Regions from separate parts of the Homo sapiens genome. Here regions 2 and 3 are each linked to region 1. The links come from fine-mapping of genetic effects on gene expression. A gene starts in region 1. Each other region holds a variant in brackets. All regions are shown on one strand. Distances are from middle to middle. Region 1 holds the start of RBM18 (RNA binding motif protein 18). Region 2 overlaps MRRF (mitochondrial ribosome recycling factor). Region 3 overlaps RBM18 (RNA binding motif protein 18).

Region 1 (11,098 bases):
ATTTCTGCTCCTTGATTTCTTCAACTATAAAATGGGAATAATTGTACTCATTTCTTAGGGTTAGGAATAATTAATGAGGTTATGCAAGTAAAGCCCTTGACACAGTACTTAGCAAACAGCAGGAGCCCCCCAAAATAATACCTGTTGATAGCTATCACCTTTTTTTTCAAACTTTTAAAAAAATATTATCTTTATTATCTTTTGAGACTGAGTCACACTCTGTTGCCCAGGATGGAGTACAGTGGCACGATCTTGGCTCACAGCAACCTCCACTCCCAGGTTCAAGCAATTCTCATGCCTCAGCCTCCCAAGTAGCTGGGATTACAGGCACATGCCACCATGCCCAGCGAATTTTTTTGTATTTTTAGTAGAGACAGGGTTTCACCATGTTGCCCAGGCTGGTCTTGAACTCCTGGGCTCAGGCAATCCACCTGCCTTGGCCTCCCAAAGTGCTAGGATTACAGGTGTGAGCCACCATGCCCGGCCTCTAAAACTTTTATGCCAGGGTCAGACACAATAAAGAAACCTTGTATGTTATTAATGATGTACAAAATAGCCTACAATCAGTCAGACCTGGATGTAAATTTCAACTTTAGGCAATTTACTCTTCTTTTCTGAGCATCACTTTCCTCATCAATGATAAAAATAACCTTGAACTTAAAATAAAATTTAATAATGAATACATGTAAACAACTAACATAGTGCCAGGAATATAGCAGCTTAATGAATGATGGCTATTATTATTATTATTTTTTTTTTTTTTGAGACAGAGTCTCACTCTGTCGCCCAGGCTGGAGTGCAGTGGCACGATCTCGGCTCACTGCAAGCTCCGCCTCCCGGGTACACGCCATTCTACTGCCTCAGCCTCCCAAGTAGCTGGGACTACAGGCGCCTGCCACCACGCCCGGCTAATTTTTTGTATTTTTTAGTAGAGACGGGGTTTCACCTTGTTAGCCAGGTTGGTCTCGATCTCCTGACCTCGTGATCCACCCACCTCGGCCTCCCAAAGTGCTAGGATTACAGGCGTGAGCCACCGCACCCGGCCTAATGATGGATATTATTTTTAAAGCAAATGAGTAGCACAAAGGCAAATCATTTCTCGCGATGGAATTTTTAACAGTAAGGGATACTAGAAGTTAGTGATCAGTGTATGAAGTCTATAAAACCAGATTTGATGAAAAAAGGGAATATTTTTCTTCTTTACTAGTATCAATAGCTACTATTAATTGAGGTCAAGTTTGGACTGTTTGCTTTAACCATACTATTTCATTTAATTCTCTCAATAATGCCACAAAGAACGTATAATAATCCCCATTTTACAGATGCTGAAACTGAGGTTCAGAGAGATTAAGTCACTGTCCAAGGACATGGAGCTAATAGCCAAGCTCTATTTTAGCAGAACTGTTCACAGAGGTTTGGCTCAGAGTGAAGTTTCTATATCTAGGTTTTTCCCTAATAAAACCAATGCCTAACTCATACTTATAACCAAATATGGCTGTAGAATAATGAGTAGATTTTATTTTAGTCTACAGGGTCTCAATCTGGCTGCTCCATTTAAGACAGGTTTCCTGGTATTCCTGTTGCAGGTCATAATACCAACTCACAAAGCAACAGGAAATCAAAATGGGTTAGAAATAAACAACCTTTGACAGAAAACGCAGCACCCAAAAGCAGACCCAGTACACGTGAACCGGAAGACAACTCTATAAATAAACCACATCGCTGAAATGCTTAAGGCGTAGATTTTAATTGCACAGAAGTCAAGAAATTTCAAAGTGGAAGTTCAATAAAAGCAGTCCTTTAGGTCCTTTACCTTAAGGGTATACAAATTAACATTCAGTTCAGCACAGATAAAGAATTAAAGTTGAAGAAAAATTTGTTGAGATCCCAAGTATGAGCCAACAAAATTAACCTATACATAGAAGCAATGTGGGGAAGTGTCTGAGCTTTGGACGCAGTCTGGAACTGGAATCTCAATTCCCCCACTTACTAGCTGTGTGACCTTGGGGAGGTCATTTAGCCTCTCTGAGCTACAGCTTCCACATCATCATCATAGTGATATTAATGAGACTTTAAAAGATAACAATAATGACAATACCTAACATTTATATAACAATGACTACGTGACAGAAACTATTCTAAGTGGTTTATGCACATGAACTCATTTCAGCCTCATGATAACCCTGAAGTAAGTACTATGATTATTCCCACTTTACAGATAAGAAAACAGAAGCAAAAATCTGCCCAAGATTTGAATTCAGTCAATCTAGCTCTAGAGTCTATGTTATTAACTGCTATACAATGCATATAGAACACTCAGCATGGCTGGGAACAGTGATGGGTGCCTATAGTCCCAGTTACTTGGGATGCTAAGGAAGGAGGATCACTTCAGGCCAGGAGTCCAAGGCCAGCCTTGGCAATATAGTGAGACCTAGTCACTTAACAAAACACATACACACAGTACAATGCCTGGCATCCAGTAGGTACACAATAAATTGTAGCTATTATAATAGCATCCCAACTATTAAATTTTTTTTTTTTTTTTTTTGAGACAGAGTCTCACTCTGTTGCCCAGGCTGGAGAGCAGTGGCACGTTCTCAGCTCACTGCAACCTATGCCTTCCAGGTTCAGGGGATTCTCCTGCCTCAGCCTCCTGAGTAGGTGGGACTACAGGCACCCACCACCACACCCAGTTAACTTTTATATATTTTAAGTAGAGATGGGGTTTCACCATGTTGGCCAGGCTGGTCTCAAACTCCTTACCTCAGGTGATCTGCCCGCCTCGGCCTCCCAAAGTGCTGGGATTACCGGCGTGAGCCACTGCGCCGGCCTGAATTTTTTTTCTTTTTTTTTTTTTTTGAGACGGAGTCTCACTCTGTCGCCCAGGCTGGAGTGCAGTGGCGCAATCTTGGCTCACTGCAACCTCCGCCTCCAGGGTTCAAGCCATTCTCCTAACTCAACCTCCCAAATAGCTGGGATTACAGGCGTGCGCCACCACACCCAGCTAATTTTTGTATTTTTAGTAGACGGGGTTTCACCGTGTTAGCCAGGATGGTCTCGACCCCCTGACCTCGTGATCCGCCCGCCTGGGCCTCCCAATGTGCTGAGATTACAGACTGAAATATTTTTTTAAACTACTTGAAGCACACATTCTTTTTCCAAAGTTGAGGGTCTCAAACGATTTCCCTGTTCTTCACAGAAGGTTCATTTTAATTTTGGCTAGATGACCAACCCAAAATCCTGGCTTATCTACTGTCCCAGCAACTCTTTTCAATGCAGCTGTATACTAGCTTATAACATAAGCACTTCTATGAGTGTGCATATACGCAGGCTCTTGCATATAAAATACTTTCACATGTACCATCTTAACTGGTTCTCATAACTAAAGAGTGATAATCACCACCCGTATTTTGCAAAATAAGAAAAGTGATCTTTCACTTCTCCAGGGCTCCCCCTGCTCCAGGGTCTTCAAACATGCCATTGAATCTCCTTGATGATCTTCCCTCACCTCTTTAACTGTTTGTCTCCGTTTTTATTTCAGATTTCAGCTTAACCATCACTTCCTCAGAGGACGGCTTCCTTGGCCATCTCCTACAGCCCAACTAGGTCAAGTGTCCTGTAGTCTGCTTTCATAGCACCCTTTACTTCATCATAGCACTTAATTCTTAACAATACAAGCTAACATTTGTGTAATTATTTGATTGTCTAATTCCCTCCATATGACTCTAAGTACTACAAGGACTAATCTATGATTTTCTTGTTCACTGCTGTATCCCCAGTACCTGGTACATTGCCAGAACACAGAAGACACTGTGAATGTGATGAATACATCAGTGAAAGTCCAGAAAGATAAATTCCTTATCCAGGGTAAACCAGAATCGGATGGGAATCTACCCTTACTATTATGGTAGGTTCTGGGCTTCCCAGCGTTGCCTCCACTGTCTCTGGTTTGCCAGATTTTTGCTTAGAGATAGTAGATGATGTTCTTCTCTAAATGCAGTACCAGGTAAAGAAAGGTACTTGTAGTATCTGACTATACACAGAATCATTATGCACCTGGCACGGCCAAAGAAGGAATGAGACACTTTAACAGGTAGAGAAAGGGCTTTTGCCTAAGAGTTAAGAGATCTGGATTCCAGTATGCCTACCTTATCACTCCCTGCCATCTGCCATTTAGATTCATAATCACACGTATTCAAAAAGCATTTGCGGCAGCTCTACCACTGACTTGTGACTTGTACCAAGTGATTTCTCCTACGTAGATTTTGTTTCAACCATAAAATGAAGGGGTCAGATCAGGTTTTCATTCTTTCCAACTATAAAGCTTTCCAAAATGGGGGGAAATGCAACAGTGTGGTTTAAAACAAAATAAAGGCACTAAACTTAGAGAAAACTCCGAGTCTTGGTTCCAGCACTTCCTAGGCACGTGACCTTAAATCGGTCAAACTCTCAGGACTTCCGTCTCATCTGTAAAACGTAAATGACAATACTATTTGTCAGGGTTAAGTAAATGGAGAAGGGCTACTGAAATGACAACTGTTTTGCCACTGGGTGGCACAGAGTGGTGGTTAAAAGTCCAGGCTTAGGAGTCGGATAGCCCTAGGTCTGAATTTAAGCGCCCTCACTTTCTGACCGCGTGACCCTGGTAAAATTACCTATGTGAGCTTCCGTTTCTTCATTATGGGAGATAATAATATCTACTCCTATGGGATTGTTCTGAAACTCAAACGTTCCCGTCAAGTGTGCGGCTACTCTTTAGTAAGTTCCTCCAGCATCCCCTAAATTCCTAGCTGGTAAAAGGAGCCCCGCCCCCACCCCATGAGACTCGCTCCAATGCCACAGGTCCCGCCCTCAGCCTTAAAGGTCAAGCTGGACTCGAACGGGTCGGGGACGGTAGTCTGGTCCCCTGAGGTCCCCCAGAGGTCCCTGAGTAAGGGTCTCTGGCACCCAGACCACACGCGCCCCTCGAGGCCCTGTCAAGGACACTCACCAGCTATCGCCCAGGTTACTAAGGAAAGACTCGTGCGACGGCGGCGACCGCAGCTGCGCGGACGTCGTGACGTCACGAAGCCAGGAGGCGGCGCAGGCTTAACGCGTCACGGGCGGCCTGGCAGCTGGCGGCATTGAGGCGGACGCGTCTAGAGGTCCGTCTGACCGCGGCGTCGGGACCTGGTTTCCGGGCATGAGCTGAGAGCACCACGCCGAGGCCACGAGGTGAGTTCGGCCGCGACATGTCCCTGCACCTCAGCGATGGGCCCGCTAAGAGGTCTTACAGGAGGCCGCCCTCGCAGGACTGCATCTCAGGCCCCGCCCCGGATTGTCCTGTCGCTGGCCCGGAAATAACAATCCGAGTAATGACCCTTCGCCTGTAGGAATTCGCAGCCAGAAATCGGGAAGCCAGGGTTCCAGGCATGACCCCACCGCTTGCTGTTAGGATCAGGTGTCTCTTCTTCTCTGGATTGCACTTTCCCCAGATGACTATTTCTGGCTTCCAGAGTTATTGCAGCTCAGCTGGAAAGACAAATGTAACCGCGTTTTGTGAACTCTGGTAGTCTAAAGGATTGTTGCTATTGCAAACGCAAAGCATTTTGATAGTCCCGTGCCGTCTTGATCTTTTATTACCCTTTACCTTTCCTCAAAAAGCCATATTCTGAGCTGTCACCAAAATTGTCTTATTTAAGACTCACAACGACCTCGTGAGACGACAAATTGTACCCATTCTAGGAAGGAAAAAGAAACTAAGTCTTCGAGTGGAGAAGCGGCTTGCTTCATTTAGTAAATATTAAGCACCAACCGTGAGACAGGCAGTGTACTTAAGTGCTAGAAATAGAACCGTGATCAAGATTGGCAAGGTCCTGTGCTGTGGGAGCTTACGTTCTAGTGAAGGAAATAGAAGAGGAAACATTAAGTAATACATTGAATTAGCATTTAGTAGGAGGAAAAAGATGGAAAAGTGGCTATGATATAGAATAACAAGGAACTCTGTTTAGGAAAGCTTTTCTATCGAGAGGATGCTTAAAGAAAGGTCATGTGACTTGCTAAAGGTGCAGTTACTAGGTGCAAAAGTCAGGATTTGAACCCAGACCCGCATAGCCTGCACTCTTACCAGTAAAACATGGTACCTTTTCGTGGTAATAAATATTAATAGCTATTGGTATTATTCCTGATTTTAGACATGAGAAAATCAGAATGTCCTATCATTCAAGTCCCAAATGTCATCTCCTTTAGAGAGGCCTTCCCTCCACTCAATCTATAGTCGTCGAGTCCCTGTCACATCACCCTGCTTAATTGTGTTTGTGGCATGTATCACTAATTATATCTTCTTTATTTATTTTGCTTTTGTTTTGTCCTGCTCCCCTTCCAAATACAAGCATCCAGAGGATAGGGACCTTGCTTGTTCACTGCTCTGACTCCAGTAACTGGATAAGTCCTAGATAATAGAAGCAGTGAATTTATTTTTTGAATGAATGATTTGTTTAAAAAGTAGGGGGAAAGGAAAGCAGAGGGAAGACAAAAATGTGTCTCCCCTGGGATTAAATTTATGTCTGTTTCACCTTTCTCCCAGGAGGTAAGAACAAGAGCTGTGGCTTTTTCATTTGTCTATTTCAGTACATAGCCCAGAGTTTAACAGTTCCTAGTTGCTTGACTTACATTGCTGAACAGATTAAAGATGTGAATGGGAAAGGAAGAAAAATACCCTCATGTGCAGGGTATTCAATAAACAATTACCTAGGGACTGCTGTGCTAGACTTTACAGGGTGTGCTGAGATGATTAAGAGGTAATGGCAGTTGTTGTGACTGCCTCCATGGTTCCTGTAGTGCTGACCTCTGAGGTACTTCTGGGTATAGGATATGTGTTCTCTAGCAGGGACTTCTGAACTCTGACACAGCCTGCTGTCCTCCCAGCCCCTAAAGCTTTATTTCACATCTGTCGTCTCATTTTTGGTCCTCGAAGCCTTAAGTTATAAACAGGGCAAAATTTATTAAAGATGGGTAAACTGAAGCTCAGAAAGAAATAACTTCCAGTGGAAATGCCACAGTTTGTGCTGGGCATGGTGGCTCACACCTGTAATCCCAGCACTTTGAGAGGCCGACGTGGATGGATCACTTGGGGTCAGGAGTTGGAGACCAGCCTGGCCAACATAGTGAAACCCTGCCTCTACAAGAAAATACAAAAATTAGACAGGCTTAGTGGCATGCACCTGTAATCCCAGCTACTCGGGAGGCTGAGGCATGAGAATTGCTTGAACCCGGGAAGTGGAAGTTGTAGTGAGCCGAGATCGTGCCACCGCCCATGAGTCTGGGCAACAGAGCGAGAGTCTGTCTCAAAAACAAAAAAAAAGAGAAAGAAAGAAATGCCACAATTTGAAACAATGTCTTCTGACACCAAGGTTTCTGCTCTTTCTACTGCTGTCTCCATCATAATCATAATCCTCTTTTCTCCTTGGCTGTGAGATGAGACATTTCAGGAACTAAGACTAGTAATAATTTAAGCTAACATTAATTGAATGCTTCCTAGGTGCCATGCACGGTTCTAAATGCTCTAGGTGTATTAACTCAGTGAATCTGCACTGTAATTTCATGAGGCATTATCCCCATTTTACAGATGAGGGAACTGAGGCCAACAGCTGTTAAGTAACTTGCACAGGGCTACATAGCTAGCAAATGGTGGAACTTGAATAACTAAGGAGGAAATTAGTCTCTTCTTCCTGGTCTGTCCCAAAAGAGTAAGCATGATAATAGCTAGTATTTATTGATTACTTACTGTTGTTAGATACAGTATTTAGTGATTTTTTTACTGTCTTTAATCTTCACAACAACTCTATAAAATAAGCACTATTATCTCTCTAGATAATGAGGAAACTGAGGCCTAGAAAGTTCAGGTAGTTCATCAAGTCACACAACCTGCTTTCAAACCCAGTTCTGTCTACGCACAGATTTCTTATATTGCCTCTTCTCTTTGCTATATTGCCTCTTCTCTTTGCTATATTGCCTCTTCCATGAGGAAAAGGGATGGAGTGCTGCTCTTCCCTACCCATCCCTTTTAATGCCATTAAGACTCTTCCTGGTGGTTTCCAAGGCTTATTTTGGGTGACAGTTGTTGAACTGAAGTATCATGTAGTAATAGAGACTTTGGCCTCCTGCCCAGTCAGCCTCTGGCTTCAGAGGAGGAAAACTTTAGTTTCTCCACACAGAACCACGCCCCTTTCACCTTAAATGGCAGCTTGTGTGCCCTGGCTGCCAGAGCAGTTGTCCCAAGGGAACTGGTTCTGGGGCCCTGGTTGTGGAATCACTGAGGCCTTTGAAGGACTGCCCAGAGGGCATGCCCTCCTTGAATAAATGTTTGTTGAGTTGAATTTGAAGTCTTGTGTTCACACATTGTTACTCCCCTCCTGCCTGAATGTTCACATTTCCTTTAGTATTTCATAGACATTGATGGAAGCAGAAACCAAAACTCTTCCCCTGGAGAATGCATCCATCCTTTCAGAGGGCTCTCTGCAGGAAGGACACCGATTATGGATTGGCAACCTGGACCCCAAAATTACCGAGTAAGTCTAAGTTACCTTAGTTTTTTACCTACAATATTGGGATGTTTTGTGGTGATGATGTCAAGAAGAATTTTCAAGGGGTGTGGGATATACTTAGACCCTTTTACTTACATCGTGTCTTCGGAGAGATAAGATGTTGTTAGCCTGTTATCTTGTCACTTTTTTTACATTTGGACTCTGCTACTGCAAGGACACAGACTTGGGTATCCTTTAATCCATATACCTGTTTTTTTCCTATCTGCCAAAGACGTTCTCCCATTTCCAACTATTTGAATCCTTGTACCTAGTAGCTCTAGGGAATTATTCTCTAGAATCAGCCTTGGGAATACATTTGTACCCAGAATAAAGGAACAAGCAGAAGTCTCAGTACCTTTGCAAACAGGCAGAGGAGACCACTTGACTGTAATTCATATTAAGCAGCCATAGAACTATAGAAGGTCAGAGTTGTAAGGAACCTTAGAAATCATGTCCCTTTGGTTTTCATTCATTCATTAAATGATTTGAGTGCCAAGTGCCATGCTAAGCAGTTTGCAGACTTCTTAAATCTGAAGAACCCTGTCTTAGAGTAAAAGTAATAATCAGAGCTGTATATAAAATAAGAGCTCAGAGTTGCTCTGACTAAAAGGGAGAAGAGATGGAACCAAAATCTTTTGTCAACTACTACCCTTTCTTTGGCCATCCCTGTTTAGGCTCTGTAGAACTTCCAGGGCTCCATAGAGCACACTTGACAACCTCTGATGGGACCCAGCTTTTTTATCCTACATAGAGGAAACCAAGTCCCGAAAGACAGAAGTACCTTGCCCGAGTTCACGAAATTGATTGAATTGCCCTGACTCCCTGCTCTTTTACATCACAGCCATTAAGATGAAAAGGAATTTCTTAGCTGAGAAAATTGAGAGGTTTTTCCCTTCTGCCAGTTATTTGATAGAGGGAGGGTGGTGGTTGGTGGCAGAGTACAATGAGTGGATTGGCCTGTATGAGGTCAATGCTGAAAGCCAGTTTTTTTGTTTGTTTGTTTGTTTTTGTTTTTGTTTTTAAGACAGTCTTGCTCTGTTGCCCAGGCTGGAGTGTAGTTGCACAATCTTGGCTCACTGCAACCTCCACCTCCTGGGCTTAAGCAATTCTCATGCCTCAGCCTCCCGAGTAGTTGGGACTACAGGCATGCGCCACCATGCTGGCTGATTTTTGTGTTTTTAGTAGAAATGGGGTTTCACCATGTTGACCAGGCTGATCTCGAACTCCTTACCTCAAATGATCCACCCACCTTGGCCTCCCAAAGTGCTGGGATTACAGACTTAAGCCGCCATGCCAGGCAGAAAGCAAGTTTTGAGCATATCATCAGTCCTAGAAGTTACTCCCTTTAGAATAGTGTTAAAGACAAGGGGAGGCCGGGCACAGTGGCTCACGCCTATAATCCCAGCACTTTGGGAGGACGAGGCAGGCGAATCACTTGAGGTCAGGAGTTTGAGACCAGCCTGGCCAACATGGTGAAACCCCGTCTCTACTAAAAATGAAAAAATTAGCCAGGCATGGTGGTGCATGCCTGTAGTCCCAGCTACTTGGGAGGTTGAGGCGCGAAAATTGCTTGAACCTGGGAGGCGGAGGTTGCAGTGCACGGAGATTGTGCCACTGCACTCCAGCCTGGGCGAAAGGTGAAGGGAGGAGATGAGGAAACCTGCTTCTTTGAGTATGAGATGAGACAAGGTATATATGAGAGTTAAGATTAGGAAAGAGAAGAAAAGGATATAACCTTATAAATCAGGATTATAACAAAAAGTTCCTTAAACCTGCTCAAGCTCATATCAGCCAAATGTAAATATATTCAGTTCCCTTAGAAATTATGACGGTATTTAAGATGTGTTGCCCACATATTATGTTATCTTGGTCACAGGGACCCTAGAGTGGATTGCATTTATTTCAGTTCTCTTTTACGGTTCATGGCTTTTGAGGGTGAGTATATGAATCTGTCCAACCTCTCAATTAATGTCTCTTCATCAAAGAAATTTTTTCCATCATCCAAAACCCAGGCTATGAGGGGATGCTCATAGTGGTTTCCATTCCCACCTCTGCCTGTCTAAATGGAAATCTAAAGTGTGGAAACAGCGTTGGTTGTGTTGGCTGCACTTCTCTGTAATGAGACTTTTGTTCTAATTGTGTCCTGCTGCTTGACGGGAAGGTTCAAATGGGCATTTGCCACCTCAGTTTATGTCATAAGTTGGAGTGTGTGGATGTTTTTTTCAATTAGAACATTGGCAGGAACATTGAATCAGAACTTTCCCACTGATATCTCTGCTCTTTTTACATCAGGCCAGAGGTAGACATCAAGTAATAAACTAGATCAGAGCATGCTGGCTGGAAGTGCTGGGCTTTCCCTGTGGCTGGCTTCTCCACTTCTGTATCACAAAAGACCATTTTTATTATTTTTTCCTATAGATTCTTTTTTCTTCTTCTTCTTTTTTTTTTTTTTTTTTGACAGCTCTGTCACCCAGGCTTGAGTACAGTGGCACAATCATAGCTCATGGCAACCTAGAACTCCTGGGTAGCTGGGA
Region 2 (11,098 bases), 68 kb before region 1:
TGGGGAGGGTGGCTTCAGGAGTCATAGAAAGCACCTTCTCGCTATGGAACTGTGGGAGGCGGAAGAGGGTCCTTGCAGGGAAGGAGTTTCTCATTCCCAGGGAGGAGAAGTTGCCAAACCACTGGACAGAGGTGTCGTAGAGAGGATTCAAGCATCAGATAAGGGATGGATTAGGAGACTTCTGAGGCCCAATTCTGAGAATATCCTGGCCCTCCACCCAATAAAGCAATAGAGAAATCCAGAAAATGATGCCGGAGACAACTGCCTCAGGCTCCAAAATTTCCCACCTGCCTCGGGCTGGCTTTTGTCTCTTACTGGTTGCCCACACGGCCACAGCTTAAGCCCTCCAGAGGGAGTAATGACAGTGATTATGATCATAACAGCAGCAGCAAATACACAGCAGGAATGCACTGCTATAGCCCCACCAGTTGTTAAAAGATTGAAACATGTCCACACCAGTTGTTAAATAGCCACTGCTCCAAGCATCTTGAGCACACCCTCCCCTGCCAGCCCAGCTGCCAGGGCCTTAACTTCACATTCCAGTCTCTGCCCAGAGAGAGAGCCTGTCCTACTCGGAGCATCCCTGTGCTTCAGTTCACCTGGAGAACACTATCCTGAATGGGGTGCCCAGCCTTGGCCACAGAGGCTGCCCACTGCAGGGTGCCCCCTCCTCCAAGGCCCCTCTCCCAAAGCCTGAGCAATCAAGGCTGCTGCCTCCCTGGGCTGGTGCAAGTGCCCGCCTCCTCCCGGCCCCTCTCCTCGGCTGCAAACCCAGCTCATTTGCATGTGGATCGCGCCTGCCACCATGGGTGCTGGGGTCAATTGAAACTCAAGAAAAGAGAAGAAATTTATGCAAAACTGTTGATTGCATTTGTATGTAATGAAATCATCCAATATTCATCTGACTATAGAATCTAATCTGAGAAGAGAACTGAAGGACATGAGTGTCACTGCAAAACCGTAATGAGCCACTGTAGTGATTAAAAAAGCTCTTGAGCCTTCTGAAAATCCAGGCAGAAATAGCGTCTAATCAACTCTGAATATAGGAGGCGAGATTGGGCTGGCGCGTTGCGCACGGCCCGCCGCGGTGCTGGGGGTGCGTGGTAAACCCTGGCGGCCGCGGTCTGTGGGTGCCAATCGCCCGGCACCCACCACAATCAGCCGAGCCCTCGGCGCACAAAGCAATCTCTGCCTCTCGCCATGCAGAAAGAGCCCAATCACAGCTGTTGTGAAGAGCAGCTTGAGGCTTCTGCACCGGCCTCAAAAGCCTCACCTAAGGCCTCTTCTGGGTTCCTTGCTCCAACCGAGAGGCAGGAAGAGTTTGGGGACCTGGGCCTGCCATACCTGGACACACCTGTGGCCCAGACAGCCCCAGGCAGGGGAGGGTCTGTGTCTCGCAGAAGCCCTCGCTCATCACTGAAATGTCACCTCCTCTGTGAGGCATTCCCTGACTGCCCCATCTAAACTGACAACCCCCACCCCCTCACCACCACCCTCCCAATTCTTTAACTCCTGCTTTGTTTTCCTTCACAGCACTCAGCTATGCCTGGCACTAAGTTATTTCTCTATGGATTTAATGCCTGCCTCTCCCAAGTAGACCGTGAGCTCCACAAAGGCAGGGACTTTGTGATGGTTTGTTTACCCTGTGGAGTGTGGAGAACCATGCCTGGCACTTAGTAGGTGCTCAACAAGTATCTACCAAGATGCTTAAATATTTGTTGAATGGCTACATCAGTTTCACTAGGAAGCCACATGTATTTATTTGTGCATTCAGCAAATACTTGTTGAGTGTACAGTGTGTGTCAGGCTTCATCCTGGGGACTGAGCGTGCAGTGTGAATGAGACAGTTCTTGCCTTCTCAGAGCTCACAGTTGGGGCAGGAGACAGATGCGAAAGTCGTTACATATAATCAGATGGGATAGTGCGGTGCTGGGGGCAGACCAGAGGCTCTCAGAGCTGCTAAACCCAATCTGGGGAGGTCAGGGAAGGCTGCCCGGAGGGAGTGACATTGGGTTGAGAGCTAACGGACATATAGAAGTTAGCAAGGCCAGTAGGGCCTGGAATGTCCCAGGCAGAGGGAACACCACGTGCAAAGTCCCTGAAGTGACAGCCACCGGTGGGGAGCTGAGAGACGCCAGAGCAAGGAGAGGCTGGGGTGAGATGGGGTCAGAGAGATGGTCAAGCCTTGCAGTTAAGACCTTGGGTTAAGAATTTTGGATTTTTTCCTGGAGGTCATAGGGAGCCTCTGAAGGCTAGTGGCCTGATTTGCGTTTGAAGAATTTACCCTCTGGAGAAAACGGATCAGAGGGCCAGGCATGAAGAACAGAGAGACTGGTTAGGAGGCTATTCAGTCATCCAGGTAAGGGGGAGCCACTGAATGTTTTTGAGCAGGATGTTATAGCAAAGGCTGTGTTTTTGTTGTTGTTGTTATTGTTTGTTTTGTTTTTTGAGACAGAGTTTTCGCTTGTTGCCAGGCTGGAGTGCAATGACACAATCTCAGCTCACCGCTACCTCTGCCTCCCGGGTTCAAGTGATTCTCCTGCCTCAGCCTCCTGAGTAGCTGGGATTACAGGCATGGGCCACCAGGTGCAGCTAATTTTGTATTTTTAGAAGAGATGGGGTTTCTCCATGTTGGTCAGGCCGGTCTCAAACTCCTGACCTCGGGTGATCGGCCCGCCTCGGCCTCCCAAAGTGCTGGGATTACAGACATGAGCCACCGCGCCCTACCTAGGCTGTGTTTTAAGGTTATTAATCTGACGGCAAGAGATAGAGGAGAGGAAGGGAAGTGAGGTAGAAGCCAGAAATCAGCCTGGCAGTCCATTCATTCATTCATTCATTTGTGTATTCCTCATTCAACAGACATCTCTGTGTGAAAGCTGCCCTTCTCCACATTGTAATTTATAGTTTCCAATCTGCTCTGGGTTTTGATACCAAGTTACCTATTATTAACACAGGTTCTAAAGCTGTAGTCAGTCAGTTCTGAGACTCCAACGGACTCTGTGGATCATGAGGCTGCTTATTTTGGCATGGACTTTCTGACATCAAAGTGTTCTTGTGAGTCATTTGCCCTGTTTAGGCCTTAAATTCCTCATCACTACAAAGAGGGCGCCAAACTAGATTATCTCTAAGACCCTTCTCTGCTCCCCAAACCCTGCAATTTTTTGCCCCATGAAGGCTTAAAGACATCTCAAACCCCGGCAGCTTAAAAATCCCAAAGTGCGGTCTGACCTGCAGTCTGTTAGACTCCACTGGGCAGCCAAAGGAGCAGGGAGGAAATCAGGAAATCTGGGTTCAAGTCCCAGCTCTGCTATTCACTGACTGTGTCGTCAGTGGATGAGTTCTTCCCCTCTCTGTGCTTCAGTATCCCACTTGTAAAACATGGAGCTGTCTAGAAGTGGGAAGAGCTATAGCAGACCCAAGACACATCCACCTCCTAACAGGTCAGATGGGAGTCCCAGTTCCAACACTCACTGCATCTGTGACTTTAGCAAGGCACTTAGCCTTTCTGAGCCCGTTTGCTAAAAATCTAAGCCCAAAGGGCTGTTGTGGGAATGAAGTTAGATAATGTGGCTTAGGGGCCAAGCATCGCGTAAATGCTCCATGAGTAGTGGCTGCCTGGATGGGTGGGCTGGGACTGATGTCCTTTCTCCTTCCTTCTCTACAATGGCTCCATTTTAACCAGCAACTGGGATTCACTGGGGGCTGGAGAATTAGTTTTTTTTTTTTTTTGGAGATGGAGTCTCACTCTGTCAATCAGGGTGCAGTGCACTGGCGTGATCCCGGCTCACTGCAACCTCCGCCTCCCGGGTTCAAGCGACTCTCCTGCCTCAGTCTCCTGAGTAGCTGGGATTACAGGCACCCACTACCATGCCCATATTTTACATCCATCCATGGAAACCCCACTCTTCAGCAGGTAAGTAAACGCAGTACATCTATATGGTGCAGTGGTCAGCTGGGGCCATGTTTCAACAAGAATAGGGCCCTCAACACATGATGGGCAGTGGAAGAAGCAAGCAGAGTCCTATTACAGCATGATGCTATTTATACAAACTGGAATTACACAGACACAAAGCAATTCCTTTAAAAATGATGCCTAAAATGTTTAAAAGGGCAGGAGGAATTTAGAGGGATTTCTATTTTTAGTAGAGATGGGGTTTTGCCATGTTGGCCAGGCTGGTCTCAAACTCTTGACCTCAGATGATCCGCCCGCCTCTGGCTCCCAAAGTGCTGGGATTACAGGTGTGAGCCACTGTGCCTGGCCAACAATGGCTCCATTTTAACCAGCAGCTGGGATTCGCTGGGGGGTGCTGGAATTTGGGTCTATTTTTTAATCTGTAGCTTTGGGTGGAAGGGGTTATAATGCATCTCTAGCCCACTAGGATGGGTTGGGGAACGCTGCTAGCTAGAGGCCTTGTTAGCAATGTGGCCACAACCAACCAGCTAACAAGCAACAAAGCGATTCCTTGGCCACAGCAAACAAGACTTCCTCCTTCCTCCCTGAACATTTTTGAATAGCAGCTCCCCACTAGAGGTAGATCCTCATTCTAGAAGCCGTGCTTTGAATTTCAGGAGCTCCACCCTCCCACCTCCCCACATCGTAGTGGATTGTGGGTGTTGGAACCGAGAAATGGTCAGCACCTTCCTGGTTTGCCTCCTGCAGTAACAGGGTGGAAGACCTAGGCTCAGTCTCAGATACCTCTGTACTGGAAGTCCCTGCCCTTGAGGGCCTCCCATTCAATGGGGAAGACAGTCCATGAACATCACAAGGGGAACCGCGAGGGGGAAAGTGCTTAAGAGCCCTGAGAGTTTGGTACAAGGGGAAAAGGGAGACCGTGTCTGATTGGTGGATGCATTCCTGGAAGACTTCCTGCAGTCGGAGGTATTTGGGGTGGGTGTGGAGGATAGCTAGAATCTCTCTCTCTCTCTGGAAAAAAAAAAATTAAAAGTACAGGGGAAATAAAAACAGAAAACGAGGTTAACAACCACACCTATTTTCACAGCTCCA[A/G]ATTAACATTATGTCAAGTTTTCATGTACATATCCATACACACACACACACACACACACACACACACACACGATGACTTCAGGGTATACTTTAAATCTTCCCCCCACTCCCCAGTGTCAATCACCGTTAGGAATTTAGCCAGTATCCCTCACAATCCCCCCTGCCCTTTTAAAACATTTTATAATGCAAAGTAGGCATCGTTTTTAAAGGAATTGCTTTGTGTCTGTGTAATTCCAGTTCGTATAAATAGCATCATGCTGTAATAGGACTCTGCTTGCTTCTTCCACTGCCCATCATGTGTTGAGGGCCCTATTCTTGTTGAAACATATGGCCCTGGCTGACCACTGCACCGTATGGATGTATCACGTTTACTTACCCTCTGAAGGGTGGGGTTTCCATGGATGGATGTAATAAGGGGAAGACATTCCAGGTAGAGAATGTGGCAGAAGCAAATGCATAGGGATAGAAAAGCAGGGGTCCAGGGCGGAGGGAGCACCGGGCATATTTGGAGGAGCAGGGGAGGTGCAGTTGGCACACTGGACATCTGGGTTGTGGGGGAAAAGGCCCCCCACTCAGAGCCACCACAAGTCCTCAATAATTCCACTTAACCACTTTCCAAGTCCTCCTCAGGGAGGCCTATGTTACTCTTTCCATTAATTGTCTCATTAATGACCCACTGAAGTCAAGTACCCATTGTTCTCTGGGCCTGGGGCAGCCTCCCTGGCTTTGCCCCTATGGGGATTTGTAAACGTCTTTCCTTCCCCTGCTTTCCTTTGGCAGGCATCCTTATCTAGTCCCTGCAGCCCCGGCAGGGCTGATGCGACACTTCCTCTACCCACGCCCTGTGCCAGAACCTGGGGCTGCCCAAAGCCACCAGGCCTGGCTCACCCTCCCTCTCCCCTACATCTCCAGCTGCCTCACTCCGTCTCCACCTATATGTGTGTCTGTCTTCTCCTCTCTGCTCCCCTCCCTTCTTTCTTTTTGTTTTTGTTTTAAGGAGCAAAAAGTTTAACAGGCAAGAAAGAAGGAAGAAGAAAACAGCTCCCCTGCATAGAGACGGAGGGAGGGGTGGGATTCGAACAAGTAGAAAACCCCCTCCCCTCCCTTCTTTCTAAACTGTTTCTTTTCCTGGTTTCTGTTGCCTTCTCTGTGTGTACTTCTCTGTCCTCCTCTGTGTCTGTCTCTATCTCAGTCTCTGTCTTAGTGGGTATCTCTTTTGGAGTATCTCTACAGATGATACTGTCTCTGACTCTCACTGTCCCTGTCTGTTTTCTGTCTCTGGGACTGTCTCCATCTCTCTTCCTGGGTGTCTCTCTGTGTCTTTGTCTCCATGTGCTGATCTCTGTGTTTGTATGTGTGCATGCGTGTGTGTTCCTATTTTTGTCTCTGATTCTGCCTCTATCTCCCTCCCTCTGTCCCTGTATCTCCCGTCTCTGTCTCTCTCCTCTCTCTGACTCACCTCCCCCAACCTGTCCCTCCTCCCTTGTGGGTCTCTCAACCCTTCTGATTGACTATTGTCCTGTTTCCAACCCCTGCCTCACTGCCACTGCTCACTCACCCAGGAGTCCCCGACACCCACACAGGTCAAACCACCTCCCTCCCTTGCTTCTCTCCCTAGTTACAGCTCCAGCTTCCCTTGGATGACAGCCTCGGGGACATCAGAACTAGGAGTAGGCGTGAGGTCCCATAGCTCCGAGACTTTGGGATTCATACATCTGTGAAGTTAAAAAACAGAATGAAAGGAACCCACAGAATGTGACCAATTATTTTTTCTAAATAAGGATTTCTAAAGAATCACCAACTTATCATTTTATAATAGAAAGGATATTTTAATGCCAAAAACAAAAGAGAAAGCTCTAAGAATAGGTAATAGTCCGTTAATTTAAATTAACACTTTTATAAAAACATTTGCTACATTACTTTTATTTTACTTATTTTGCCCCCGATGGGTGAAGATGTTAGGGATCAGCACAGGTTCTCTGGCCTCATTGGAAACCAGAGAACTTGCCCAAGCCTTTCCCACAGAGAAGTGGAGAGACCTTTTTTTGAGGGAAGAAAGGGCAAAACTGCGACAGGACCCAGAAGCTCTCACTGGCTACTTAGCACCTCACAAGTCCCTTTCCAGCCCCACTGGTCTCTTAGTGAAAATAATGTATGAGGCTGCCTAGTTGCGGGTCAGACAACAGACTCCCTGATGCCAAGTGTTCCTCTGTGTGGAGACAGAGTCTCGCTCTGTTGCCCATGCTGCAGTGCAGTGGTGCAATCTTGGCTCACTGCAACCTCTGCCTCCTGGGTTCAAGTGATTCTCCTGCTTCAGCCTCCGAAGTAGCTGGGATTACAGGCGCCCGCCACCACACCTGGCTAAATTTTTTATTTTTAGTAGAGATGGGGTTTCACCACGTTGGCCAGGCTGGTCCCGAACTCCTGACCTCAAGTGACTCGCCCACCTCAGCCACCCAAAGTGCTGAGATTCCAGGCATGAGCTACTGCACTAGGCCCTCTGTGTGTCTCTGGACATGTAACTTAACCACTGTCTGTGCTTCCTTCCTCACTTGTAGAATGAACAAAATAACAGCTAGCTCCTTGAGTTGCCTAAAATCTAGTAAAACTTGTTAGCCACTATTATTATCAGGAAGAGGAGGCCTGGGGAGTAGTGTCTTGGAAGAAGGGAGCTATTTGGATCAAGGCCTGAGCCAGGAAAGGAAGAGAATAGCAGGGACTTTTGCCCTGCCCTCCCCTAGGCAAGCTGTGAGCCTCGGTCAGGGGCAGCTAGCTCGCGGAGGAGCTGCTGTCTTTGGAGATTTAGGGGCTCTAGAGCCTAGCGAGGCTGCTTTGGAACTCAGGGATGCACGGCAAATGTGGGATGTGGGCAGAGACCTTCTCCCTTCCTCTTCAGGGCTTCCACCCAGCATGCTCAGACCCCCTCAGCCCAGCAACCAGCACTTTTGTCACAGACACTAACACTCCCAGTAGTGGAGGTAAATCTCCCTTAAGTGTCACTTGTGGCTGCAGATGCTAGCAAAGGGAAGCGCCGGTGGGAGGGGAGTACAGTAGATGCCAGTGGCCTTGGATGCCATGCGGTCCCTTAAGATGTCTAGAAACGCCTGAGGCCGACTTAGCAGATGAGGTTGAAGGTCCTGGGCAGGCAGGTGAGGATAATTAGAGAAACTCTGGGTTATTCATGTAAATGTGACGCCATTTGTATCAAGGCCTGGCAGGCCCCTTAGAATTAGACAAACATTTCCTCAACACCTGCTCTCGCCACATACTGTGCTAGTCAGAGAATGCACAGACTAAGACAGCAGGGGACTTTCTTGCCAGGAATTCACACAAGGCTTATCTAGGGTTAGCCATGTTCTGCCTCTGAGCCAAGTGTCTAGAGACCCGGGTGAGGCCAGCCTGGAACATTTGCCACATCTGTTCCCTGGTGAGCACCACTCAAGGGTGTGCCCAGGAAGGAAAGGAAAGGTCTGTTGAAGGGAGAATTGACAGGACTTGGTGACTTATTGGATGAGGGGAGAGGGACAGGGAGGCAAAAGTGGCTCCCAGTGTCCTGGCTTGGCACCTGGGTGGATGGTGAGGCTTTTCCTGAGAGAGGAAACGCAGGTGGGTAGCTGAACGTCAGATGCTTGAGGCAAATCCAAGCGCTTAATAGGCATAGGCAGGTTTAGGGATCAGGAGAGGCATCGGTATGGATAATGAATGAATGAATCAGGAGAAGCATCGGGATGGATAATGAATGAATGAGTTAGTGTAAGGAAGAACATGGGACCAAGAAGGGCTTATAAGACTAGGTAAGTTTTGCCTGCTGGTGGGGAAGTGGTTTAAGGGAGCATACACTAGGCAAAGAAAATAGCCTAAGAAAAGGCTTGAAGGTGAGAGAAAGCAGCACAAAATTATTAGCTTTCAGAAAAGCTAATAATTCCGTTTCGCTTAAGCACTGGTGGTATCAGGGTAGTTGTAAGAGATGCATCACAATTAAAGGAATACATCAGGCCCAGATTGCAGAAGTTACTGAATGCCAGGGTGAAGAGTTTACATAATTCAGCAGGCAACAGGGAACCAATGAAGGTTTCTGAGAGAAGAGTGACATGATAAAAGCTGTTTCAGGTTGTTCTAACTTAACAGCGTAGGATGGACTGAAACACAGACCAGAAGAAAGGAATGTAAGAGAAAGGGATCTTCGGGCACAGCTGTGCATATCTGCAGTTCCAGGATCACTTGAACCCAGGAGTTCAAGTCCAGCCTGGGCAACATAGGGAGACCCCTCATCTCTTATTAAAAAAAAAAGAGAGAGAGAGAGAGACAAAGAGGCAGACAGAGATAATCACTTATTTGTTTATTCCACAAAAACTGAACTTCGTCTATGTGAAGCAACCCTCTTCCTCATTCTAATCTCTAATCCTTTATCTGCTTAGGGCTAAAACACCAAATCACTTATGTTAATACTGAAAATAAAGAAAAAGTAAATGGGTTCTACTAAACATATCACTATTATAAATAAATGTAAATGAATTTAAGTGTCTGTTAAAAGGAGCTTTATATATACTTATTCATATATACAACAGATTACTCAGCCTTAGAAAGGAAATTCTGATACATGCTACAATATGGATATACTTTAAGGACATCATGCTTCAGTGAAATAAACTAGTCACAAAAAGACAAATCCTGTATGATTCCACTTAACATGATGTTCCTAATCAAATTTATAAATTCATAAATGGTGGTTGCTGGGGGCTGAGAAGGGGGAACTGGGGTTGTGTAATGGGTATAGAGCGTCAGTTCTGCATGGTAAAGAGTTCTGGAGGATGGTTGTACAACAATGTAAATGTACTAAATGCTACTGAACTGTACACTTAAAATGGTTAAGGCTGGGCACAGAAGCTCAAGCCTGTAATCCCAGCACTTTGGGAGGCCAAGGTAGGAGAATCACCTGAGCTCAGGAGTTTGAGATCAGCCTGGGCAACATAGCCAAGACCTTGTCTCTACAAATAATTTTAAAAGTTAGCCAGGTGTGGCGGTGCACGTGGCTGTAATCCCAGCTACTCAGGAGGCTGAGGTGGGAGGATTGCTTCAGCCCAGGTTGTCAAGGCTACAGTGAGCTGAGATCATGCCACTGAAATCCAGCCTGAGTGACAGAGCAAGACCCTGTCTAAAAAAAAAACATGGTTAAGAGAGTAAATTTTATGTATATTTTACAATTAAAAATAAAAATAAGAAAAAAGGAGTTTCAGAATGGTTCATCGAACAAAACCCAATTCCAAAAAAAAAAAGAAACACCTAAAATAGTGATTCTGAAAGCTTAAAAATCAAGAAATGGGGAAAGCAAATGTAAACAAAAAGCAAGCAAGAGCTGTAATCCTGATATACAACAAGATAAAATTCAGACTAAGAGCACTGAATGAAATAAAGAAGATGTAAGCGTCTGGAGCGCTATGTATAAAACAACACAGCAGTACTTTCACAAAGCAGAATCCATTTTCATAAAGCAGAAAATGCAAGAAGGAACAGAAATGTTAATAGCAGGGGTCTGAAACACACCACTTTCAGTCCAAGACTCATCAAAGGGTCAAAAAATAATGGAAAACCTAAACAACATACTCTATAAGCTACATTTCCTGCATACATATCAAAATTTGTACCCCCAAAATAGGGAACATATCATTTCAAATGCACATCATGAAAAATGACCGTCTATTAGGGCAAAAGAAAGCCTCAAAGTGGCTTTTGAGGATACAAGCTTTTATGATCACTCTTTGTCTAACCGCAAAGTTTCACTGAGTGGTTTCAATGCAACAAAGAATGTAGAAGCAGTTTGAAAACTAAAAAGCACCAAGCAAATATTAGTTACTGATCTGTCAATACTGTTATTGTTGTTATTATTATCATTATTCACTGCTTGGTGAACATTTTGCTTGCTCTCTGACATATTCTAGAGAAGTTGGCCAAACAGGTGGGGGATTAATATGTAATCTTTACTGTCTCCATAAGAGCTACCATTTCTTTGGTGTTTACAATGTGCCAGGTACTATGCTATTTTACTTGCAGTCATTAATTAGGAACAGCTTGCTATGTGTTTTATGAAAGCAA
Region 3 (11,098 bases), 27 kb after region 1:
ATTAGCTGGGCGTGGTGGCGCTTGCTACCTGTAATCCCGGCTACTTGGGAGGCTGAGGCAAGAGAATTGCTTGAACCTGGGAGGCGGAGGTTGCAGTGAGCCGAAATCACACCACTGCACTCCAGCCTGACGACACAGCGAGACTCCATCTCAAAACAAAAACAAAAACAAATTCAGATGGATGTGGTGGTGTGTGCCTGTAGCCCTACCTACTCACGAGGCTGAGGCAGTAGGGTTGCTTGAGCTCAGGAGTTCAAGGTTTTAGTAAGCTATGATGGCACCACTGTATTACAGCCTTGGTGGCAGAACAAGACCCTGTCTAAAAAAAAAAAAACAGTATAAGTAAAATGCACTGTGCCTGGCTCATTGTAAGCACTTTGTAAATGATAGTTTTTATTAACATGCATTCATCAGTAAAAAGAGATTGTATAGGATTTCCAGAATGTTTTTTTTCCATTTTTATTCAGTGATTCAGGTGAAACCTGGGCTTTTGAGTCAGTTTGTATTCAAATCTCTGCTCTATCGTTTACTTGCTGTGTAACATTGGGCAAATGAACCTTTCTGTGCCTCAGTTACATCATCTGCAAAATAAGGAATATAACCTATCTTATAATGTTGTTTTCAATTCTAAAAGAATTATTTTTAGTACCTACTCTCTGCCAAGCATTAAGGTGCTAACAGTGTCTGCGTCTGAGGATTAAATGTAGAACTATATGAAGTACTCCCAACAATGTCCAGGCTTATGTTAAAAACTTAATAGATGGCTCAGACTTGATCTGTTTCTTAGAATGAGAGAATTAGTTATTTCTGGCTTTTATATAAAATGTTTAAATGTCTGTAATTTAGTATCTTGTTGCGTCTCTAATATTCCCAAGAGGCTCAAGGAGAGGAACTGTACAGCTATTTTCTGAATATACCTAGGCCCACTCTGATCCTCTGCTATTATTTTTCCAGTGTCACTGCAAAGATAAAAGCCATTGAAGCAAAACTGAAAATGATGGCGGAAAATCCTGATGCAGAGTATCCAGCAGCGCCTGTTTATTCCTACTTTAAGCCACCAGATAAAAAAAGGACTACTCCATATTCTAGAACAGCATGGAAATCTCGAAGATGATGGTTGTGAATTACTGTAGCAGCAAAAGCAAATTGGTCTCCACACCTAAAATCGTCTGCCTGTGTACTTTGTAGATGTGAATGGTACTATTCAACGGAGCACAATCACATGTTAGCATTTGGTAACATAATGTTTTTGGATGTTCTTATGGATGTTTCTTCCCTAAACTATGTATGGAATTGAGCATCATCCAGAATAAATAGCGTTGTATCCCAAATTGTGATTTGAACCCTGGGATGCTCTAATTGGCTGGTTGGTTTGGATTTGTAACTCCAGAAACATTCTATAGTGTGCCAGAGCAAAAGGCAAATACACAAAATATTATTTAAATCAGGAAACTAAAAATATTAACATCTATTAAAAAATTGAGCATTTTTCTACGCTCGTGTGTCTTTTACAACATAAAGAAAAAGTAAAAGGCAGGGAGGGAAGTGAGAGACAGATTTTAAATCATGTTCAGAACTGTTGTTCCAGAATTTACTACGGCAATCCCTCCAACTGGACTGAAAAAGAGAAAGTTCTTGGCAAAAAGGAGCTGATTCTTTGAACAAATGTTGTAGTAATCTGTTTAAGAATTATGCTTATTGTTTCAAAATCCCAACTAGGAAAACATGGTGTATATCTTAAAATTGTTTGTGTTGACAAAACTAGAATCAAATTTAACATTTTATACCACAACACAAGTTCTATTTGGAAATTGAACTTTTATTCTATAGCAACCATTTTTTTCAAATCTAAATAACCATGCCTTCTATAATAACAAATGTTGCTATTATCATGGGACTTTTAAAATTACATTTATTGCATGGGATTGTTTTTATAGCATGAGAATGTTCTGTTTGGAATTATATCATGGTCAGTCTAAATAGAAAAAGCAAAATTTCTTTGAAAACCTAAACATTGCTATATTGGTCACTATCAAACATACAATTTTCTAATAATTGTGTAGCGGTCTAAGTGGAAGAGATTGCATTATCTTGTGCAGGACGAGGAGAGGACATGCAGTGGGCACAGAAAGTCAATGGAACAGATGCCACTGTGGCACCAAGACTGTAATGACTCTGTGTGGTAGGTAGTTTTAAAGGACTGCATGCCTTGGAAATGATTCTTCACTTGGAGAACATACTTGCCTCTAGATATGTTTGTCACTCTAAGCATCCTGAATATAACAATAGAGAAAGATAAGTCAACCAACAGATTTAGGGATGTGTTTCTTCAGCACATTTTGGTCATTTTGATGCCAAGTTTGACATACTGTTTAATTGGGCAGCACCTTTGCTCCTTTACCAGGTATGTATCACTTTGTTACTCCAGGTGCCATTCTTGGTGATGACAGAATGTTTATCACTATCGTTGTTAGCAAGAGGAAGCTTTCAATATAGGAACTTAACATCTTCCCATGAGTATAAATGAATTTAAGACATTTGAATCAAAACTTCAGTAGAGGGAGGTTTTAGAATTCATAAAACTGGTTTAAGGAAATTCTTTTTACTTTTCCCAAGGTTAATCTTTTTAAATATCTCTAGACATCAAATACTTTCTGTATGTATTAGCTGTGTCTGTCTATGATGCAAGTAACTCTCCTCCTATTTGGGGGATAGTTCAGAGAGGTAGGAGCATTATCTCCCATTTTTCTGGTGACTTCTTGGAGTATAGAATTCACCATTTTATCCGTAAGTCTTCAAAGGATTATGGTGGACTAGAACTTACATAGTGCAAAATAGTCTTCTATTTTTAATAGGAACTTAGAAAAAACTTAGAATTATATATAGAGTTGTTTCCTTTAGAAACCAGAGCTATTTATTTGTATTTAAAGCACTGTTTATTATTTGTACTGATTCTTATCCCTCTGTGTGAATAAATGTAAGACGGTGTCCGTGTGGTTATATCTTCTCTCGTTCACTTACTGGCATAGACTGCAGTTCTCTGACAGGCTTGTTTCCACTCAGGACTCTGGCCAGCATGTCCACGTGGGGTGCTTCTTCTAAGTGCCTTCTCTGCAGAGGGTTCTGGCTAGAGAGTCAAACTGAGAGGCAACTCTCTTTACCCTTTATGCCTGCCTACCTCTGTTGTTAGAGATGAGAATAGAGACCAGCTGTTTCCATTGCAAATGTCACTATTTGAAAAGAAGTTGTTAATGGAAATCTCTGCAAGTATCGTACTGTGTTTAGTCTCTCGTGGTAGAGATTTCAAAAGAAGAAATGTATGTATCCTAAATATGCTGAAAGCAGTCTGATGAAAGGTTTTTAAATTTCAGGTGTTAACTTGGTCAACTCTTTGTTAGGAGGTTGTCTGTACTTTAAGTAAAATTATTCTTTGGTTTACTGGTTATTTTGGTTTGCTAAAATTATGTCACTTATAATTTTGATTTATATACAAGAGTGAAGAATTGAAGGAAATACTGAGGAGAGACGTATGAACTATTTTCTTCATCTCAATTCCTATTTTATCAAATGCAAAATGTAATCCTAACCAGTTGATTTTCTATAATTGGTATCTTAGTACTGGGGAGGAGTATCACATGAGGAAAGATTTTTCAAAGCATGTCAGCTGAGGCACAAGAATCGCTTGAACCCAGGAGGTAGAGGTTCCAGTGAGCCGAGATTGTGCCACTGCACTCCAGCCTGGGCAACAGAGTGAGACACCGTCTCAAAAAAAACAAAAACAAAACAGGTCAAAAATCAGTTGCACAAGTTGTATGAAACCAGGTATTCTGCAGCTCTGTCTCTTGTTTATTAAGATATGCACAGTTTCTGAATCAACAAATATATCTGTGATTCTTTTATACTACTACATAAAAGAACAGGAGTAATTCTTGCCTTATAAATTAAATGTCAAACATTTCCTATATGTAATCATTTGTTCCTAAAATATGATTTAGTCCCAGCATGCTTATCCCTGTTTTCTCTTTTTCTCTCCAGCTCCTATCTAGTTCTTCAACAAATCCTGTCAACTCTACCTTCCAAATGCCTCTTGAATCCAGCCATCTCACCACCTCCAACACTACCACCATTTTTCTTAAAGCCACCATCATCTCTTCCCTGGACTATTACAATACCTTCCTAATTATCTCCCTGCCTCTGCTATTGATTCTTTAGGGTCCGTTTTCCACACAGTAGCCAAAGCAATTTTTAAAAAAATTATTTTAAAATGTGATTCTCTTCTTTGTGGCTTTCCATCACAGCCTAGAAAAAATTGAAAGATCTGTAAGGCCCTAATGACCTGTCCTTCACTACGTGTCTGACCCTATAGCCTACTGTTCTCCCCTTGTGCGGTGTACTGCAGCCACGTTGGCCTTCTTGCTATTCTTTGAATACAAGGGAGCTTCTACTTCAAGGCATTTACATTGGCTGTTGCCTTAGCTTAGAACGCTCTTTCTCCAGATAGCCGCAGAGCCCGCTCTCTCACCTGACTCATGTCTCTGCTCAAATGTTAATGATCAAGAGGCAGTCCCCGGCCTCCCTCTTAAAATTACAACCTGTCACTCTCCAATCCTTTCCTCACGATTTTCTCAAAAGCACTTACCGCTAACCAACATTATATCTAAATTTTTTTTTGTCTCTTTTTATTGGAATGTAAGTTTCATGTAAGCAGGAACTGTATATCACTGCTATACCCTCAGCATTTAAAACAATGGCTGTACATCATACATACTCAATAAATATTTGTTGGATAAACTACAAGAATTCTGGTATTTGAGAGCCAAAGGGCCTTAAGAGACCATCTCATATAGCCCCCTCATTGTCCAGATGGGGAAAACGGGAACCCAGAGAGACAAAGCGATTTGGCCAGGGTCACCTGGTTAATGGGAGAGCTTTAGGTAGAACCCAGGCCTGCAAACATCTAGTCCAGTGTTCAGCAAACTGGCCTCTGCCTCCTAATTTTGTATAGCCTACAAGTTAAGAATGATTTTTTTTTCATTTTCGAGTGGTTGAGAAAAAAAGTAAACAAAATATATATACTATATTGTGACATGAAAATGATACGAAATTCAAATCTCAGTGTATGTTAATAACTATTAGAACACAACCATGCCCAGGCATTTACATGTGGCTGTTTTCCCCATATAATAGAAGAGTTGAATAGTTGGCAATGAAGACTGTGGCCTACAAAACCTGAAATATATACTATCGGTCCCTTTACAGGAAAAATTTGCCAAACCCTACTCTAAACAATATTCCATGACTGGAAATGTGTTTTCTAAAATTCTCGTATTAATGCAGAGAATAAAAGCAACAGATGTCAGAATGATGTGCACCGAATATTGTTTCTTAGTCAATGTCTCTGACCCCTTACACATCTTTTGGGATAGAGAACTGGCTGTGCCAGCCCTAGTGGCATCACTGTACTGCTTAAGGCTATCAATGTGGGCTAAATCCTCTCATTGTCCCTGTGAGGAAACTAAGGCCGTAAGAACTTGGGCTTCAGATTTAGACTTGTAGCCCCAGCTATGTAAGCAGATTTGTCAGGACTCCCAGCTCAAGTGACAAAAACACTACTCCAACTCCCTTGCGGTAGAACATGTATTGGTTCATGTAACTGAGAAGTCCAGGTGTTCAGTGAAATGGTTAGGATTCTGTCTATCTCTTGATTGTGTTTTCCTCTGGGTTGGTTTCATTCTCAAGCAGGCTCTTCCTTGTGGTCTCTGGAGAGACCTCTTGAATCCCAGGTTAAAAAGAAAAAAACAAAAACCCAAAAAAAACAGATCTGTCAGAATTTATCCGAGTACGCAGGTCTGTGTCTTCTTTCCTCTGCATTCAATCTTAAACTTGGCTAAGATTACTGATTATGCTGAATGACATTTAATTTTTACATGCCCTGTGACTTTTCTAAACTAGAAGCATAATTTTAAATTTTCACCTTAAAAAACAAGTTATGTGTTCCTCTTCTGAAAACAGGCCTATCCCATTTGAGAAGCTTTCTGGTGGGCGACCTCATCAGAAGGAAGGTTACTCATTCCTGAAACAGATGGCATTTGCCATGTGTGATGCGTGGAGGGTGTAAAGATGATGAGGCAGGAGCCCTGTGCACTGTGATGTACCGTGATAAAGGGACGACTCAGCAGCTTCAAGACACCAGAGGATGGGAACCAGGCTGGGAATGGGACATGGTGACATAGGTGATTTCCCCCCGAGCTGAGCGGCCAAACGATGTTTAATAAGCTGCGTAAACGGTTTAAGGGGGACGTTGAACAAAGAACAAAGCCCCAAAGTGAGAGATATTAAGATTTAATCTAAGTAAGGAGTTAAGATACTTCCAAATACCTAGA[A/C]CCATAGGATAAGCCAGGTTTATGAGGCCTTCTACAAATCAGTCCCACTAGGCATTCTCCTAACCAGACTAAACTATTTGTGCACCCTAAACATGATGGACTCTCCTGGATTCCCCTGTCCTTGTACAAGATGTGCCTTCTACCTGGGAAGTCCCTTCTGCCCACCCCCACCACTTGTCTAACAGATATTTTCCCACCCATGCTCATTCCTATAAGGCAGTTAATTGCCTTTCTGCGTCTTAACGACCTGGGTCTGTTTTAGCACTTATCACTACATATAATGTGCTTTATAATTTAAAAAACGATTCTCACCAAAAGTAAGATGAGTTTCAGGGGCAAATTACCTCCCAGAAAGCAAACAAGCCAACTCTCTTCTCATAGATGGGGTAAATTCCAGCTGCTGTAAAATCTCCACTTCCAAGGCTTCCGCTGCTATCCCTACCCTGATATCTCTGAAATTCCTTCTCTTAGATCCAGGCTCTCTTCTGAGCTGCAGAGCCATATGTCCCGTTCACTCCTGGGCACTTCCACTTGAATATTCCCTTGGTACATTGACTCAAAACCGAGCTCATGGATCCCTCTTGCCCTTCCTCAATTGCTCCCATGTTCTGTGTCACTGGGAAAAATAAAATAAACTATTAGAAACCTGAGAGTTATCTTGAACATTTTCCACTCCCCCACTCCCTATATCCAGTCTCCTAAATGTTATATAGCTGATGATATCATATATGATACATTTGTATGTATTTATACCATATATACTACATATATATGATTCTATATATAACCTTAATATGTAAAGTTGGTTAGACGTGGTGGCTCACGCCTGTAATCCCAGCACTTTGGCCAAGGCAGGCAGATCACTTCACGCCAGGAGTTTGAGACCAGCCTGGCAAAATAGTGAAACCACGTCTCTACTAAAAATACAAAAAATTGGCTGGGCACGGTGGCTCATGCCTGTAATCTCAGCACTTTGGGAGGCCAAGGCAGGCGAATCACCTGAGGTCAGGAGTTGGAGACCAGCCTGACCAACATGGAGAAACCCCATCTCTACTAAAAATACAAAATTAGCTGGGCGTGGTGGCACATGCCTGCAATCCCAGCTACTTGGGAGGCTGAGGCAGGAGAATCGCTTGAACCCAGGAGGTGGAAGTTGCGGTGAGCCGAGATTACGCCATTGCACTCCAGCCTGGGCGAGAAGAGCAAAACTCTGTCTCAAATAAACAAAAGCAAAAGCAAAAAATTAGCTGGACATGGAGGCACGTGCCAGTAATCCAGCTACTCAGGAGGCTGAGGCATAAGAATCACTTGAACCCAGGAGGTAGAGGTTGCAGTGAGCCGAGATGGTGCTACTGCACTCCAGCCTGGGCGACAGAACGAGACTCTGCCTCAAGGAAAAAAAAAAAAAAGATGATTAGAAAACTGGATGTGTTGTAGATATGTATATGATGATATACAACATAATAAAGTAAAATAATAAACTTTTAATTATTTTATTTCTGTTCATCCTCCTTGTTCCTGCAGCTGCCTCATTCCTTCTCCCTTAGATTACTAGTTAATAAACGTTCAGTATTGCTGCAATCAATTAAGTACTTACCCCTTCAAATCTATCTTCAAACCAACTACTTAAGTCATCTTTCCAAATCTCCAACTTCACCATGTCATCTCCATGCTGACAAGCCCCTCATAGTTCCTATTTTGAAGTTGAAATTCCTTGGCATTCTATAGAAGACTATTTGTGAGGCTATGTGTAAGCTGTATCTACCCTCTGCTGGAAAAAGATTAATACGGGAGATTTATTTTCAATCATGTGGTCAGGGTAGAATTCTCTGAGGAGGGAACATCTAGCACCTTGAGGATCCCCACTTAGCTAGTGCCTTCTGTGTGACCATTACCTCATCTTCTTAGTGGTAACAGTGATAACAATGTCTCTTGGTGGCCAAGAACTTAACTCGTAGATGCATCATGGTCTCCTGGTATCATCACAGCACTTGTCAATGGGTTATCTATTAATCCCCATTTTACGGTTGAGGGAACTAAGGCTCATAGAGTTTGTGACTTGCCTTCGGCCCCCCAACCAGTGTGTAACAGGGTCAGGTTATCAATATAGGCCACCTGGCTCCAACCCCGGAATCCTTAACCACTGTGCTGTGCAACTCCTGCAGGATGCTGCTTCCTGTGTCACTGTAGGCTTGTAGACTCCAGCTTCCAAGATGAATCTAACCTCGTCAACACTCAGCTCCCCACAATCTGGCTCCTGTCTACTTCCCTAGCCTCATCTCCCTTTGTTGCCCCAGCAAACACTAACTGGGCCGCCACTCTTTATCCTGGTCCAACTCCTTTCTGCTCTTGCCTGTCTGTACTTACTCATCCTTCAGGACTTATCTGAAACGTCACCTCCTCTAGGAAGCCTTCCTGATCCACCACCCATAAGCCAGGTTAAGTGACCCTCCTCCTTGCTTCTATAGCACCCTTTGTAGCACCTGTCACACTGCACTGAGTTGCTGGCTTTCTTCTCTCTTAAGAGACTGTGGGCTCCTCAAGGGCAGGGACAAGGACAGCTTCCTCTATTTCCTGGGCCTAGTGTGGAACCTGGTATGGAGTAAATGCTTCACAAATGTCTGCTGACCTGAACTTACTTAGCGAATGTCAGAGCTTCCTGGAAGGGGACTTCCAGTAACTATAATTGTTCACATTTGCAATATGCTTTGAGGTATGCAATATTGCTTTGCCATATACTTTGAAGCTTTGATTTGTCCCCTGCCTTCATAAAGAATTTGATGTGGTACCTAGTAGAATAACAAACAGAAAATTCAGAGAGCCCGTGCCACAATGACGGCTAATGTTTATTGATTGACTACTGTGTGCCAGGCATATTTCTGAGTCCTGTCACATGGATCATTTGCGTAATTTTCACAACCATAGGAGTTGAACTCGGTTATCCTCACTTAACAGATGAGGAAACTGAGGCTGATGAGTGACTGAAGAACTTTTCCAGGATTACCCAAGTAATAAAGGGAAGTGACAAGGTTGACATTAAGGCCATCTGGCCCCGGAGTTTTGTGCTTCTCAAATCCCTTTCACACTGATTATCTTATTGACTCCTCTGAGATTGATATTGTTCCCAGATATTGATATTAAGAAAAATGTGTTTCAGATAAGTGACTTTTCCAAGTTCAGCGTGCCAGGAAGTGGCTGGGCTGGGTTGGTGGTCTATCTTACGCCCAGGCTCGCTCCGTCACTTCCACATCGCTGATTCACACGCGCATTTTGCAAACAAGGACACTGAGGCCAGGAGAGGTAAATTGCCGGCCTAGGGTCATACAGTTTGTACCCCATTCTGTGCTCTTTCCTCAAACAGGAAATACCTAGGAAGCTGATGGGGTGAGGGTAGGTCCTAGGCTTGGAAGGGGGGTGCTGCCGTGTCTCTTCCCATTGTCCCTTTCTCATTTGTCACAATCTGAATGTTTAAATTTCGTATTTAGTATTTACTCTGAAATGGCTTTCATCTGATTTCCCCCTTGCTCACCAATTTAGCTGTCAAAGTAAATAAATGTGAAGCTGGGTCTCCAGCCTCCCCCAGCTCACATTACCTTCCTAGAATTACTCCCCGGCAGGGTCGAACCATTGCTGGGGGCCTCCCACAGAATTATCCAGTTACTAATGAAGCCTCTTTCAAACTGAACCCTTGGGCCTAGACTCAAATGGGGGAAGATGGCAAAATTCACCCCAGAGGACCAGATGACCACATCCTGTTTAGTGACCGGGAGAAGAACTGCAAAGTGAGAAGATGCCATTATTCATGTAGGGTGCTTAATACAGCTTCAGGGTTGTATAAATGAATAAATCTACAACACTTTAAAAAATATTAGTTCTTTTTTTTTTTTTTTTTTTTTTTTTTTGAGATCGAGTGTCACTCTGTTGCCAGGCTGGAGTGCAGTGGTGCAATCTCGGCTCACTGCAGCCTCTGCCTCCCAGGTTCAAGCAATTCTCCTGCCTCAGCCCTCAGCCTCCCGACTAGCTGGGACTATAGCCACCTGCCACCACACCCGGCTAATTTTTGTATTTTTAGGAGAGACTGAGTTTCACTATGTTGGCCAGGATGGGCTTGATCTCCTGACCTTGTGATCCACCCACCTTGGCCTCCCAAAGTGCTGGGATTACAGGCATAAGCCACTGCACCCAGCCAAAATATTAGTTTTTAATGTATAGTTAGTTGTCACTTCAATTCTGAGAGGTCAGTATCATTATTCCCCGTTTTGCAGGTGAGGAACTGAGGCTCAGAGAAGCTAAGTGACTCAAAGTGACCCACAGTTTGTCATAGGAAGAAATCAAGTATCCTAATGGAAGGTACTATGTTTGCTAATCCTAATTTTGCCAAGGTCACTCCTATCTGGACTCTTTTTCCTGATGGAAAAAGATGGAGTCAGGAGTCATTGGAAGAGAGATTTCTTTTCCAAAGTAATTTCACTTCTGTCCTCTTTGAAGTTAGGCAAGTTCTGGGCTCGAATAATGGTTCTGCATCTTCCTTAGGTAAGTTATTCAGGAGAAGATTTGATTTTTTTTGGTTGATTCATCCCCTGCCTTCATAAAGAATTTGATGTAGTACCTAGTAGAATCACAACCACAAGATTCAGCCGGTCCATTGCCATAATGATGGCTGTTTATCATTTGCTTACTGTGTGCCTGGCATATTTCTGAGCCCTATTACATGG

The links. PIP is the estimated chance that this variant, and not a neighbour inherited with it, causes the effect.
Region 2: its variant is the best candidate, but not a certain one, in a credible set for the expression of RBM18 in whole blood (INTERVAL, PIP 0.89).
Region 3: its variant is the best candidate, but not a certain one, in a credible set for the expression of RBM18 in whole blood (TOPMed, PIP 0.86).

The regions. Positions count from the first base shown.
Region 1 is chr9:122,258,831-122,269,928 of GRCh38, reverse strand. RBM18 (RNA binding motif protein 18) reads left to right here and starts at 5,089. Exons shown (of 6, transcript NM_033117.4): 1 at 5,089-5,214; 2 at 8,421-8,549. The coding sequence starts at 8,437. It overlaps MRRF (mitochondrial ribosome recycling factor), which reads right to left and starts at 5,047. Exons shown (of 7, transcript NM_138777.5): 1 at 4,991-5,047. RefSeq lists enhancers at 4,630-4,789, 3,965-4,935, 4,358-5,557, 4,936-5,907.
Region 2 is chr9:122,327,053-122,338,150 of GRCh38, reverse strand. MRRF (mitochondrial ribosome recycling factor) reads right to left here. Exons shown (of 7, transcript NM_138777.5): 7 at 6,814-11,098. Among named protein-coding and RNA genes, the nearest start is that of PTGS1, 38 kb to the left of the region's middle. RefSeq lists enhancers at 472-1,075, 1,076-1,681. The variant A/G (reference allele first, on the strand shown) is at 5,006.
Region 3 is chr9:122,231,900-122,242,997 of GRCh38, reverse strand. RBM18 (RNA binding motif protein 18) reads left to right here. Exons shown (of 6, transcript NM_033117.4): 6 at 955-5,376. The coding sequence ends at 1,114. Among named protein-coding and RNA genes, the nearest start is that of LHX6, 8.5 kb to the right of the region's middle. RefSeq lists a silencer at 5,462-5,662. The variant A/C (reference allele first, on the strand shown) is at 6,384.